Linked DNA regions of Homo sapiens. The protein of the gene in region 1 interacts with the protein of each later gene in a pairwise test. Each region holds a gene or a part of one and is shown in the gene's direction. Other genes may lie near its edges.

Region 1 (7,025 bases):
TTAATATGATGATACTCGATGGGAGAGGGGCTGCTGCATGCCTTTGGGATCCTCTGCAGATCGTATCTATGTTTATTCATTTCATTCAAATTCATCAAAATATTTATTGGGAGCTGTTCCAGGCTCAGGGGAAATAGCCGTGAAGAAGATAGACGCAGCCCCTGCTCTCCTGGAGCGCACATTCTACAGAGGGAAACAGACAGTGAACACCAAATAAATAGGATCATTTCAGATCATAATAACTGATACAAAGAAAATAATTTAGGATGAAATGAAGGAATGTCTGCAAGCAATTGGGGAAGGTCTCCCTAAGGAGGTGCTATCAGAGCTGAGGTCCAAAGAAGCAGGCCCTGTAGAGGTGTGGGGAGTCACATAAACATGTCAGACTTCCAGGTGGAGAAAAGCAGAAAGCCGTCAGAGCAGGGTGGATGTAGCGTTAAGATCCACCATGTGGTTGAGAGCCAAGGGTACTGAAGCAGGGAGGGTCCTTTGCCATTGTGTCGAGGAGGGGCATGAACTCCAGAGCCCACCAAGGCCAGGCAAGGTTGACCCATGAGCAGAGCAGGCCCAGGTGAAGCCTTGGGAACCCCAGCTCAGGCCAGGCCCAGCTCCATCAGCTGGGGCCACACTGGAATGTGGGCCCCTGGTTGCTGAGGTTGTTTTCACATTTTTTTTTTACATGTCCCATTGTTTAGATTTGGCCAATCATTTAAGTATTTTCAGAGTACTTTGCAGGCCTAAGGAGCCCATCTGCTGCCAGATATGGCCAGTGAACTACTGATTGCACCCTCTAGGCCAGCCCGTTCATTTCAGTGTTAAAACGTCATGATGTGCCCGGGCATGGTGGTTGTCACCTATAATCCCAGCTACTCCAGAGGCTGAGGCAGGAGGATCACTTGAGGTCAGGAGTTTAAGACCACCTTAGGCAACATAGTATAACCCTATGTCTAAAAAAATATAAAAATCAAAATACTAGGGCATTGTGGCATGCACCTGTAGTCCCAGCCACTCGGGAAGCTGAGGTGGGAGGATGGCTTGAGCCCAGGAATTTGAGGCTGCAGTAAGCCATTGATTGCACCGCTACACTTCAGCTTAGGTGACAGAGCAAAACCCTGTCTCTTAAAAAAACAAAAATCATGTTTATTGTTGTCCTGGATGTAAATAGCAGGTACCCAGATGGATTTTTGAAAGGCAACATAAAGCCAGTTGGGAATTTTTCACAGCTCAAGCTAAAATGTCTAAGTGTGTGGTGTCATGAGTATGTTAAAATTACTGCTATCTTTTTGTGTTCTTCACTTTAGTGGTATTAAAAACAGGAAAGTAGGCCAGACATGGTGGCTCACACCTATAATCCCAGCACTTTGGGAAGCCAACATGGGTGGATCACCTGAGGTCAGGAGTTCGAGACCAGCCTGGCCAACATGGTGAAACCCCCATCTCTACTAAAAATACAAAATTAGCTGGGCGTGGTGGTGCATGCCTGTAATCCCAGCTACTTGTGAGGCTGCGGCAGGAGACTCGCTTGAACCCGGGAGGTGGAGATTGCAGTGAGCCGAGATCACGCCATTGCACTCCAGCCTGGGCAACAAGAGCAAGACTCCATCTCAAAAAAAAAAAAAAAGGAAGATAGTAAACTATACCAACAATGAAAAGTCTTATATAAAAACTAGTATGTACATATTCAATTTAACTGTGAAAAACAAAACCTATATGTTCACAAAGATTAGAAAAATTGGGAGAGATGTACATAGACTTTCTTGTTCACTGGCTTAGTAAAACTGCGTGAGCACAGTGCCTGGCACACTGACTTTGTATTGAAGTATAATAGACATACAGAAATGTGCACGTATCAGAAGTATAAGGCTCAGTGAATTTTCACAAACTGAATATACTCCGGTGCTTGGCACTCTGGTTGGGACATGGCCGTTCCTACACCCAACGGTAACCATCCTGATACTAATTCTTCAGATTGGTTTATCTGGTTTTGTTTTACATATATTTTGTACTTTATATTTTTAAAAACACTCTGTTTCCTCTTGTGTGTCTGGCTTCTTTCATTCTGCATTACATTTTTAGACCATCCATGTCATTGCATCTAGCTGTGAATGATCCACTCTCATGGCTGGTTTGTGCGTGTGAGTGTCAGAGTCCGAGTTGTGCGGGTAAGGGGGCAGTGAAGAATACCCACAATATAATTATCCATTCTGCTGTTGATAGACATTTGGGTAGCTGTTTCCAATTTAGAGTTATTACAAACAGTACTGCTCTAAACATTCTGATCGTATTCTTTGGTGAACATCTGTACACATTTTTGTTAGGTATATTTATACCCACAAGAAAAAATGCTTGTCATTGAGTATGCATGCATTCAGTACAGCTTTACCGCCAACCAGTTTTCAAAGTGGTAGTTGTACTAGTTGACAACCATACCGGTAGTGTATGAGAAGTCCGATCACCTTCTGTCTCTGGTGGGTAGTCAGTGATCTCCATTTTCATGACAGTTAATGAAGTCGAGCACATTTCCGAATATATGTTTACATTTGTCGTATCTACATATCCTCCTTTGTGAAGGGCCTGTTAAGTCTTTTGCCTGTTTTCCTGTTGGGTTACCTGCCTCCTTCTTAATGTTTTATAGTTCTTTATTTTGGAGATGAGTCACTTATTGACTATGTATATTGGAAGTATCTTCTACTGTATGGCTTGCCTTTGATTTTTTTAGTCAACTCCTTCGATGGATTGAAGTTTTTAATCTTCATATAATCTGACTGATCCTTGTTTTCCTTTATGTTTAGCTGCATTAGGTTTTTGGTTGCTGTTTTAGAAATCATTACCTGTTCCCAGCTCATGAAAATATTCTCCTCTTATTTCTTTTAAAAATATTATTTGTTCAACAATTTTTTGATGTCATATTTCACAGATGTCTCTTAGATACCAGCTATATTTCAATATCCATTTATTGAGAATAATGACAAGAAGCTTGGGTAAAGCTTTTAAACAGATTTGTAGTATATTCACAGCAGTGTCTAGTCATTTGAAAAGTAGTTAGAAGACATTGGGAGATACTTTCTCAATGTAGAAACCATGCTGTGTACTCCCCACACAGATCCGCAGACAACTCAAAGTGGTGGAGGCTCAAGGCTTGAGAGAACCTGAGTCAGCGGAGAGGCCATCTTAGCCTTGTTAATGTCAAAAGGTGTACATGTCCATTTATTCCATGTTTACAAAATACTTCTGTGTCAGGTATTGTGCTGATAAGATACTGGAAACATAAAGATGGACAAATAGGATCTCTTCCCTAGAAGAGCTTAGGGTCTAATGTGAGGGAGATAGTCATGTAAACAGATATGAGATATGTGTAGTAACCTGTTTCTGGTGTCCTGATTGATTGTAGTGTCTGGGATGTTACAGAGTAAGGAAGTGGGAGGGTGTCAGGAAAGCCTTTGTACAAGAAGCAACCCTTGAGTTATCAGCCAGGTAGGTAGATGGGTGATTTAAGGATTCTCTTGAAATTGTCATTATGCTTCACGGAGCAGTGAAGTGAAACCTGTTCATTCTCATGCATTGTTGGTAGGAGAATATAGTGGCACAGCCTCTTCAGAGAGTAATTTGGCAGCATCTGTCAAAATTTAAATTGCACATTCTTCCTGCATTTGTGCTAGATAGACACTGGAATACAATGTATGTGTCAGACAAATACCCAGGAGTAGAATACCGTGACCTAGCTCTTCCACTCCGGGCATTAATCCTACACACATACTCGTAAGTTCAGAAAGATGCTTCTTGCATCTTTGTTAATAACATCAAAATATTGGAAACAAACTAAATACCCATCAATAGAGAAATGGTTAAATGAATGGTGGTACATCTACAAATGCAGTATTTTAGAGCTGTTAAAAAGAAGGCAGCAGGCCAGGCACAGTGGCTCACATCAGTAATCCCAGCACTTTGGGAGGCTAAGGCAAGCAGATTGCTTGAGGTCAGGAGTTCAAGACCAGCCTGGCCAACATGGCGAAACCTGGTCTCTACTAAAAATATAAAAATTAGCCGGGCGTGGCGGTACACGCCTCTAATCCCAGCTACTCGGGAGGCTGAGGTGGGAGAATCGCTTGAACCTAGGAAGCTTAGGTTGCAGTGAGCCGAGATCATGCCACTATACTCCAGCCTAGGTGACAGAGCCGATAGCCTGTCTCAAAAAAAAAAAAAAAAAGGTGACGGCTCTTTCTCCATGTACTATGATGCCACAATCCCCAGGATGTGTTGAGTGAAAGTATCAAGGTGGAGAATGGTGCATATGGTTTGCTTTATTTCTTGCCCCATTTGGCCTTGGAAAGGGGAGATGGGTAGGGATATAGGTGTGCCTGAGTGTTTGTGCATATATGTCTCTGGAAGGCTACACGAGAAATGGGCCACAGTGGTGGCCTTGTCATGAGACAGAGGGACAACCATGTTCTGACTGAACTTTTTAAAAAACAAATCCTATGTATTACCTACTCAAAACAAAATGTTTTTGATGTGTGGCTTTTTTTAATTAAAAAACGTTTACTAAGTGCTGTGTGATATCCTTGTTTGGATCCTGGGGCAGAAGCAGGACATGTAGAAAAACTGATGCTATCTGAAAAAAGTCTGGAGTTAATAGTGATGTGGCAATGTTGAACTCTTCATTTTGACAAATGTCCCATGGTAATATGTCAGCACTGGGGGAAACTGGGTGGGAGGTACACAGGAGCTCTATCATCTTTGCAGCTTTTCTATAAATCTAAAATTATTCGAGTATAAAAAGTTTATTAAACTTTTTTTTTTTTTTTTTTACTTCAGTGAAACCTGTCAAATTGCATCTGCAAAATTGTTGTGTCTGAGAAAGTTAAAGCTCACTCCCTTCCCTTTTCTCATCTTGGTTTAGGTCGAAGAATTCCATCCACTGACGCCAACCTGCCATCTGGCGGTAAGGGCTTCAAACTCCGAAGACAGCCTTCAGAGCCAAAGCGGAGCTGCTGCTGACCGAACCTCAGCCTCTCAGACTTGATGATGAAGTAGGTGGTCCTGAAAGTTAACAGGAGGGCTGGGGTCCCTGCCACCAGTTTTCACCTAGCCAGTCTTGAGTCTTCTCCGTGCAAAAAGGATTCACAGAAATGGACCAGTTCTGTTCTCCAAAGACTGCAGCAATGATATTTCAGTCTGTGAACTTCTATTATGTAAAGAATCTCTAGTGTACAAAGGGACTACATCGTTGGCTTTTGACCTTGCTGAAAAGGAACATATAATTGTATGGATGGTAGGATTAAGTTGTTGAGTAGTTTTGTAATCAAGATTTTATGTAACATTTGTAAAGGGAAAATTAGCACTTTTGTGGTTCTTAAGGGAAAAGAAACAGACCTTGTGGAGATTATAATTTCCTTGGTTTCTGTTACCACTGTTAGAGGGAGTTGTATCATTTAACATATAGTAGGATAGTTTAAGTGTAGGGAGGACAATTATTGTCTGAAGCTAAAATGGGTTATTTATAGGACTGATGGAAATGATTTCATCTCTGCCATCTCTAAAGCACTTTTCATTGAACATGTTAGCCTAGGATACGTACAGTAAATTAACAATGATAGCAGCAGATGCCTAGCTCATCCTGGGTTTGCTTCTGACCTTGTCATGTGTGTGCCACCAAACACGTTATTGGCACCTTTTTAAATAAGCTCTCATGATCAAGATGGTGATGGTAGAGAAGCTGCCCGGAATAAACTGAATTTCATATGTTCTAAAATGACTAGCAATGGTTTAAAAAGGAAGAAGAGTGGAAGTGAAGAAGGTGGTATAAATGCTGTCAATTTTTTTTTAACCCAAGTATTTTGGTGGGGAAAAGCAAGTATCTATTGCTTAGCATATGTAAAGTTGTAGTCTATATTTATGGGGCCATTGCTTAAAGATTATAAATTATGTAAATACATTAATAAATTCTAAGTTTCATTTGACATTCCATTGAATCTCGCACCCAGTCTTGCGTATGCCTGCCCAGTTTTCAGCCTCTTAACGGGAGACTCAAGCACATTGGTATTGTATAAAGGTATAGAGCACTTAGCTTACAATCTTTAAAGGTTTCTCTGCCTTCCCTTCTACCCACCCGCCTCCCACCAGATCCCATCTGGAAATCATAATAAAGACATATGCCACTTTGACAAACCTGACTAGTCCTTACTAGCCTGAGGGTAAAAGATTAAGCTCCAACCTCAAGTCATTTACCTGGTCTTGGTAATAAGTTTCTTTTAGCTTGTACAGCATCCTCAGACCAACTGAGGAGCTTTCCTTGTTAACAATTTAGCTTATCTTTCTGTTTCCTTTATTTTTCCCCTGCCTCTGTTAGTGGTTAACACTCTTTTCCCTCAGGGAGCCTAATGAGGTTTTTAATATCATCTAAAAATAAAGCATTGAAGTGAAGTTGGTGAAAATTTGTTCCTGGTCTAATTTGGCACCCTTCCAACCTGAGTATTGTAGGGGAAGGAAATTTACAAGATTTAATAGGAAATGAAACAGCTTGAATTTCAAACTAAATTGTATTTTCAGAGCTATCCTGAAACTGAACAGCTGAAACTTTAAAAAATAATTGGTATTATTTTGTGCCCCCCACTTAATATGGATAGATTTTAATGGGAAAATTATAATTCAGATTAAATAAAAAACAATTCCCTTTTCCCTGTTGTATATCTTAAGCATTTGGAATTTTTTTTATCTTCTGAAATCATATAAAAAGAATGTCATTAGTAAAAATTCTAACTTCGTTTTGTTTAAAAGACATGTGGATGCTCCATGCCCCTAGGATTTTGCTTCCTCCCCGGTGCTAAATTAGCAAGCTCCTAGAGAAGCCATGTGATTCCCAGAGCCAGGCGCTTTACACCTAAAGTAGTTTGACTTTCTTCTGTATACATCCAGATGGATCCCAGGCATCCGGGCACCACCCTGGTGTGTCCCTAGAATTCCCACTGCTGGGCCTCTATCTCCATGACAACAAAATAAAAACAGAGGTTGCTTGACTCATTACC
Region 2 (7,182 bases), on another chromosome or scaffold:
TTTCAAATAAAATTGCTCTTATCAAAGTCTCTTACCAAATTCACCGAATGACCTTCCTATTGGCAAATTTAAAGGTCAATTTCTGGTCTTTATTCTTACTTGATCTCTTAGCTGCATTTGACATTGTGGATCAATTCATTTTTGAAACCTTTTGTCCCCTGGCTTTTAGTATAGTAGTGCCTCCAAGTTTCCCATTCATAGGGCTTCTAGGGTGGTCTATTAGTCTCCTGATATTCCTCCTACACCATTAGCTGCTGGATCTTGCTTGGGCCTCAATCCACCAAGCTTTCCTCTTTCCTTTCTGTATTAGATTCCTAAGAAATCTCATCTACTCTTTTGGTTTAAATAACGTCCCCATGTTGGTGAACTCATGGATTTATACCTTCAGCCCCAGTCTCCTCCTAAACTTGAGTGGTATATACAAGTACCCACATGAAACCTCCACTTGATTGCCTAACGGGCATCTCAATCACAACAGCCTGAACAGCACTATTGATGCGCCACCACCAACAACCTGCTTCTCCCCAGGGTTTTCTGTCTCAGTAAATCACAGGACCATTTGCCCAATGGCTTTCCCACTTTCTCTCACATACTACATCCAGCATATCCTGTCAGTTCTACTTTCAAAATATGTTCAGACTTCAACTACCTCCCAACATTTCCATACCCTCGACTTTGACCTATATCTCTCAAATCTCTTGCTTGAAGGATTGCAAAAGCCTCTTCAGAACCCAGAGATAGTCTTTAAAAATGTAAATCAGACCCTGTCATTCAGTTGCTCATATTTACAGTGGCTTCCTGCCATATCAAGAGCAACACCCAAAGTCCTTCCCCATGGACTCAGCGTCCTCTGTGAGCCAGTGATTGGCATCTCTTCAACCTCATCTCCTCCCACTCTTTCCCGCCTCGCTGTCCTTAGCCACATTGGCCTTTCTGCTCCTCCTCAAAGAGGAGCAAGCCTCAGGGCCCTCACACTTGTTCTTTCCTTCGGGCTGGGCTTCCCTGATTCAATTCTCAGCTCAACAGTTGCACACCTCAAAGAATCCTTTCCACTTCCCATGATCCTCTATTCCTTTACTAAAGGTTATCATACACTTATCAACTTGTATTTGTTTCTTATTATTTCCTCCATTAGAATATAAACTCCATTAGGGCAAGGACTACTTTTTGCTTCAGCCTATATCCTCAGCTTCTAGAGAAGAGTCTAACACACAGTCGGTGCTACCTAGTGAATGATTAACGGCAAAAGCAGCATTGTGCTATCAAATGAAATGAGATTCATGAAAACATTTTTTAAACTCTGGAGTATCAATCATGTATAAGTTATAATAACACATTATAGTTTAGTAAGTATTTATCAAGCAACTGCTTTTGTGCTAGGTAATGTACTAGGCACTCTAATTACAGAAATAAATAAGACCAAGTTCCTACCCATTCTAGCTGGAAGGTTGGAGGTGGAAACAAAGAGAGGTAAGTGTTATTCTAGAATTATCTCGGCAAGTGCTACTGAAGCACACTCAAGGAAAGGAAAATGTATTCTGCTTGGGGGGACAGGAGTAAATGAAGACTTCATCAAAAAAGTCACATTAAACTGGGATTTGATGATTGTGGTTGGGTTTGTCAGACAAGAGGCAGGAGAAAGGGCTTGACTGGCAGAGGAAAGAATCTCAATGCGTGTGCCCTATCATGCAGTTTGCTAAGCATCTCCCAAAACAGCTGCCTTCTTCACTCCTGCCTTTCTCTCTTACTCCTGAAGCCCCAGGCCTTCTCTGACCTGGCCATCCTGGGTCCTTTTTTTGTGTCTCACTGTGTCCTTTTCCCCACTGGCCTTCAATGGGTCACAGGTTACACCTCCATATAATTCATCCTCTCTCTCTTCAGACATCACGACAACTCCAGACTGTCCATCTTTATACTTCCTGTCACCAACTTCACAGCTGACCAGGGATTTCAGAGACAGTGGGGTGGATTTCTAAAATCCACCTGCATAATAGTTTAATAGGAACAGATATATACTCTTTAATGAAACATTTTTAAATGTTCATGTTGACATAAAAATTCCTCTTATGTAGTTTCTCACAGATTATCAAAGGAGAGGATATTTGCCTTCAGAATTTAAATGAGAATCAAACAAGTGGGAGACAGTGCTTAACACTGAGCAGTCTATATTTAATACATGAATGAATGATTGGATGAATTAACAAATGAGATAAATTAAAACCATTTATGCATGTGTTGTATTTCCAGATCTACTTTTGTAACTTAGTTGTTTTGAATTTGGGATAGATTTTCCCATAGAAACAATGTTGTAAACAGTTCTTAAGTTCCAAGAAATCCCACTAAGGCTGTTTAGCCCATAATGTAGCAAGAAAATGCAGAAAAGTAATGGGATAGCTTAAACAATTTTTGAATGTTGAATACTAGTATTTGAAGAAAAGTAACTTTAATTAGAAGATGAGGTGGTACATGAAAAATGCTGTGATTCCCAAGGGGCTGTCTGAGCCCTTTCAAGGGTTCTGAGGGCACTAACTTCTTGTAATGCATATTTTCAAATTAAAATGTGCACATTTATTTCCCTGGGTATAATACTATCCTTGTACTGTTCTCGCAATCAGGATGAAGGAAGAGCATGAGTCTGGCCGTGAGGAATTAGATTTCAGTGAGAAGAGAGTCTGGGACACTGGATGAGGTAAAATGAACTGAATGGCAGGCGGTATAAAATAGAGGAAAGGGAAGAAATATGGTGTGAGCATGATTCCACCTATAGGGAAGACAAGAGTATGGTGGAGGCAAGAAAGAATAGGGAAGAAAGAATACTGTGGAGGAAAATATGGTAGATGGAGGCCATAAAATGGTTCAGGTCAGGTTGGCGCTGGCCAGACCAAGGGAATAATGGCCTTGGAGTTTTCAAGTGATCAGGCAGCATGCTACTATACTAGACTGTCAGAGGTGTCAGCAATGCAGATTGGGTCTTGATATACCTAAGAGGTCTCTGCAGAATGCAGAATTTATATATTACCATATCCCCTCTGTTGATTTTGGTGACACACATACTGCATGATTTTTTTTTTTTTTTTTGAGACGGAGTCTTGCTCTGTTGCCCAGGCTGGAGTGCAGTGGTGCCCTCTCGGCTCACTGAAACCTCTGCCTCCCGGGTTCAAGTGATTCTTCTGCCTCAGCCTCCCGAGTAGCTGGGATTACAGGCGCATGCCACCACGCCCGGCTAATTTTTGTATTTTTAGTAGAGACGGGGTTTCAGCATCTTGGCCAGACTGGTCTTGAACTCCTGACCTCGTGATCCACCCATCTCGGCCTCCCAAAGTGCTGGGATTACAGGCGTGAACCACCACGCCCGGCCAGTCTTATTAACTTCTAAAGAAGGAACTTCAGAAACCCTTGCCTTCCGTGTAAAAAGGTGTCACGTTCCACTTGCCAGTCTTCTTCCATCCCTCTCCCTTCCTTCTTTTCTTCCTCTGGCGTTTACTAACTGACCCTGGGCAGACCACTTATTTCTCTGGGTCCCATTTTCTCATCTCTAAATGACAACACTGGAACCTAGATTATCTAGCCCTTCCAATTCTAAACATTTGATTATGAAATTCTCCAAAATCACAAAACATAAACCAGGAGGACGAGACCTAATTATGACCACATCAAATAGCTGTGGTTTCCAAAGTGGTTATTTCTGATTATCACAGACGAGTCAGTTATCCAGCTTTTCTCCTCTTTTCTTTGTTCCCATAGCATAGGCGACCTCTTTGCTCTCAGAGCTGTTTCAGGGGCGTCGAAATTTATCTAGAAAAAGTGGTGTGGGAAGTGTGGGTTTTTCCTTCCATTAAAAGAAAAAATCTGTTCGCTCCTTCAACTCAAAAGGCTTTCTGGGTAGCCATAAGCAGATAAAACCTTATCTTTCTACCCTCGAGTTCCTCTTTTGGACTTCATATGCATTGACTTGACGGACCTTCAGCACAGAGAACAAACACCCGAAGGGTTCCCTCAGCAACGGGACTGGCACCCAGAGCCCCCCGCTCCCCGCGAGCCGGCGAGCGCAGGCGGAAGCGCGGGCGCCACATTTCCGGTGTCGGGACCGGAGCTCACCACACTTCCGGTTTCCCTGCCGGGCGCGCCACACTTCCTGTTGATCCGGCTCGGCCGGGGGCTGGGCCGGCGGGCAGGCGGCGGCGGCCACTGGCCAGGCGTGGACGCGCGCGGGGCCGCCGCGGGCACGGAGTGGCCGCCGCGTCGCCTGAGCCCAGAGCCGGGGAGTGCTCTCGGCCGCCGCGTCTCCTGCCCTCTGTCCTTCCAACCCAGCCCTCGGCTGAGCCGCGCCGCACCATGCCCGCCGTGGACAAGCTCCTGCTAGAGGAGGCGTTGCAGGACAGCCCCCAGGTACCTCCCGCCGCTCCGGTGCCCCTCGCCCGCAGGGGTGAGGCCGAGGAGGCCCCTCCAGCCCCGGAGTGGAGGCCGCGCCCCCGGCCGGGCAGCCGCGGGAGTGCGCCCGGCCCCCTCGCGGCGCCTCCCACCGGGTTCTCTCGGGCTGAGGAGGGGGCGGGCCGGGCCCTGAGTCCTGAGCCGGGGCAGAGCTGTGGAACAGGGGAGAGAGCCCCGCGGCCGGAGTCTTGATGTCGTGACCCCCCTGCAAGCTCAGCTGCAACTGAGTCTGCGAGATCTAAACTTTGATTCCATGTAGTAGCTGAGTGCCTCAGGAAAACCACCTTATTGTGCCTTAGTTTTGTCGTCTGTAAAATAGGAATAATAATTGTGCCTGCTTCATAGGGTTGTTAGGAGAAGTCAATGAGAAATACCTGTAAAGTTGTCAGCAGACAATGTCCGGTACAGATAATGAGTCAGTCTTATTACTGCTACTCCTAATGATGTGATGAGACTTGTGCCAGCCAGAATGAGAGGCAGAGGGCCTGGATCTCTTTTCCGGCGGTACCAGGCCTCCTTTTGGCACCGTTTTCCCATTAGTGAAGAGAAAAATACAGTACCTGCCCCATTTGTCGCACAAGGGAACTTCATTAGCACACTCGAGATGAGAGTCAAGTCCTTTGAGCTCTGCAGATGAAAACTGGTGTGTAAATATAGCAAATGAGTGCAGGATGACATTAGTTCATAATTCAGCACATCTTTCCCCAGGGGTCTTTTGTTCTCCTTTGTTTAACATTTCTCCAGCTTCGTACCTACACTCCTGGTTCAGCATCCCGGGTTTATTTAAATAAGTGCCTTTATTTCCTAGTGTCTCAACTCTTGAAAACTTAGAATAAGATTAACCTATTTTCGTTTCACACTTTCCCCTCTCTTTTGGGGTTCCTTCCCTTTTTCTTCTAAGTGAATAATACTTCCCAGGATGATCCTTGTATGGATTTACCTACATCGACAGTTCAGAATAAGTCCGAAGGGCTGTATGCATAGGTGTCTTTTGTTCATTTTTTGTGATCCTCCTAGTGTAGATAAGTAAGGAACTGGAAGCAAGCTGTGTGTGTGTTTTTTGTTTGTTTGTTTTGTTTTTTGGTAAGTTTGCATCCTCTGGACGACTTTTTCAAGGCCTCCCTTTTTTATATGGCTGTAGACTCCTGGCATTTTAATCAGACTAAAGCCCTTGGTAGAAGGCATTTTGTCCATGTTCATATCTGTTGTGTGGAATCTGAAGATAGCAATGTGAGATTTTAAATGATCACTTTGAACAAGGATCTCTGTTTGCCTTGCACTTATGGAAACTGAGGTGCACAGAAATATCCTGCTTTTCTAACCTACATGGTGATGCCTAAGCCAGGTTACAGTGATTATACTAACTGATTCTTGATGTTGTCCTCACAAACAGATCATATTCTTAATTTCCAGCTCTAACATAAAGGAATATACACTGTTTGTGAGTGGCTTAAAGGATTTGCCCAGCTGTGAGGAAGTAGACAGGACTGTAGAGCAAGTCAGGAGACCTGGGTTCTAATTCTGGCTCTCACGCTCACTTAGGATGTGATGTGGGTGAGTCTCTTCATCTCCACCCTGTAGCTGGCTCAGTTTCCTAATCTACAGAACATCTACAGAATGAGAGACAGGGAGGGAGCAGGTGATCTTCAAGGTGCTTTAGAGTTAACATTGTCATATCTACATGGTGTATAACTTTGAACTTGTATGTGGCAGAGGAGGTTTAGAGATATTATCATTCTTATTTAATATGTTCCTTTTAATATAGGAAGTTTATTTGTCATTGCTTTTGAGACTTGGCCATCACCCTTAAGAGGGCTCTTGATGGTGCTGTTGTGCAGAATGGAAGCTGACTTTAAGAAGGTCTTTAATGATCATCAGAGCATATTTATATACTACTCTCTTGTATGTGACCTGTGCCTAATGTAGCTTTACTCCCAAGGTGACTCCTAGACTTGGAACTGGAAGGAATCTAATCCATCCCCTTCATTTTATGTGCAAAGCATAAAAACAATAGCAAATGCCTGTTTCATGGATTTTATGTGCCAGGGACTCTTCTAAATGCTTTACATATATTAACTCACTCAATCCTCCCAATAGTCTTGAAGTACATTCTCTATTTAAATAACTAAGGAGCAGAGAAGTAATTTGCTTAGAATTATACACCATAAAGTGACAGAGCCAGGACTGGAACCCAGGCAACTTGCCTGTACTAGGGATATGGTTCAAGTTAGCCCAGCTATCTAGCACCGGGCTTTTCTGTCATCAGTGACCTAAAATGTTTCACTAAAAGGAAAAGATCCTAATAAACCATCTATTGTGTGTTTCTTCTAGTTTTATGAAGAGTAATTTTGAGAGTTGCTTCAGTAATGTGATTGCACAGGATGAATTAAATGAACACCAAAGCTTTTGTAATTGAACTGAGTGACCCAGGAAGAGCTGAATAGCAGTTAACTGACCTTAGACACATCTATTCATGGACTCCTTTTTAGTTTGCAGTGCTGCACGATGCATTGTAAAACTAGTCTGTGTGCATACACATGCGTTATTTCTGCTTACCTCTCATATGTGGGAAGCTGAACATTTTAGGGATTAAGAAATCTGCCTCCATTGTTGTTTAGAAGCCTCTGCTCCTTGCCTGGCACTACTGGCTGTTGGGAATGTGAAGATAAATAAGAGTGACTACCCTTGACTGGTTCACAGTTTGTTCCAGAGACAGATAATGAGGCAACAGTTCCAGTACAGTGTGAATCC

Evidence for each region.
Region 2: the proteins of RAB22A (region 1) and APPL2 interact in binary tests that used the Homo sapiens proteins (3 or more experiments, as listed by UniProt).

The regions. Positions count from the first base shown.
Region 1 is NC_000020.11:58,354,706-58,361,730, forward strand, and holds part of RAB22A (ras-related protein Rab-22A), read left to right. Parts: intron 1-4,900; coding exon 4,901-4,998; 3' UTR 4,999-7,025. UniProt on the Homo sapiens protein: Plays a role in endocytosis and intracellular protein transport. Mediates trafficking of TF from early endosomes to recycling endosomes. Required for NGF-mediated endocytosis of NTRK1, and subsequent neurite outgrowth.
Region 2 is NC_000012.12:105,233,166-105,240,347, reverse strand, and holds the start of APPL2 (DCC-interacting protein 13-beta), read left to right. Parts: upstream 1-4,173; 5' UTR 4,174-4,335; coding exon 4,336-4,389; exon of another isoform or gene 4,390-7,182. UniProt on the Homo sapiens protein: Multifunctional adapter protein that binds to various membrane receptors, nuclear factors and signaling proteins to regulate many processes, such as cell proliferation, immune response, endosomal trafficking and cell metabolism.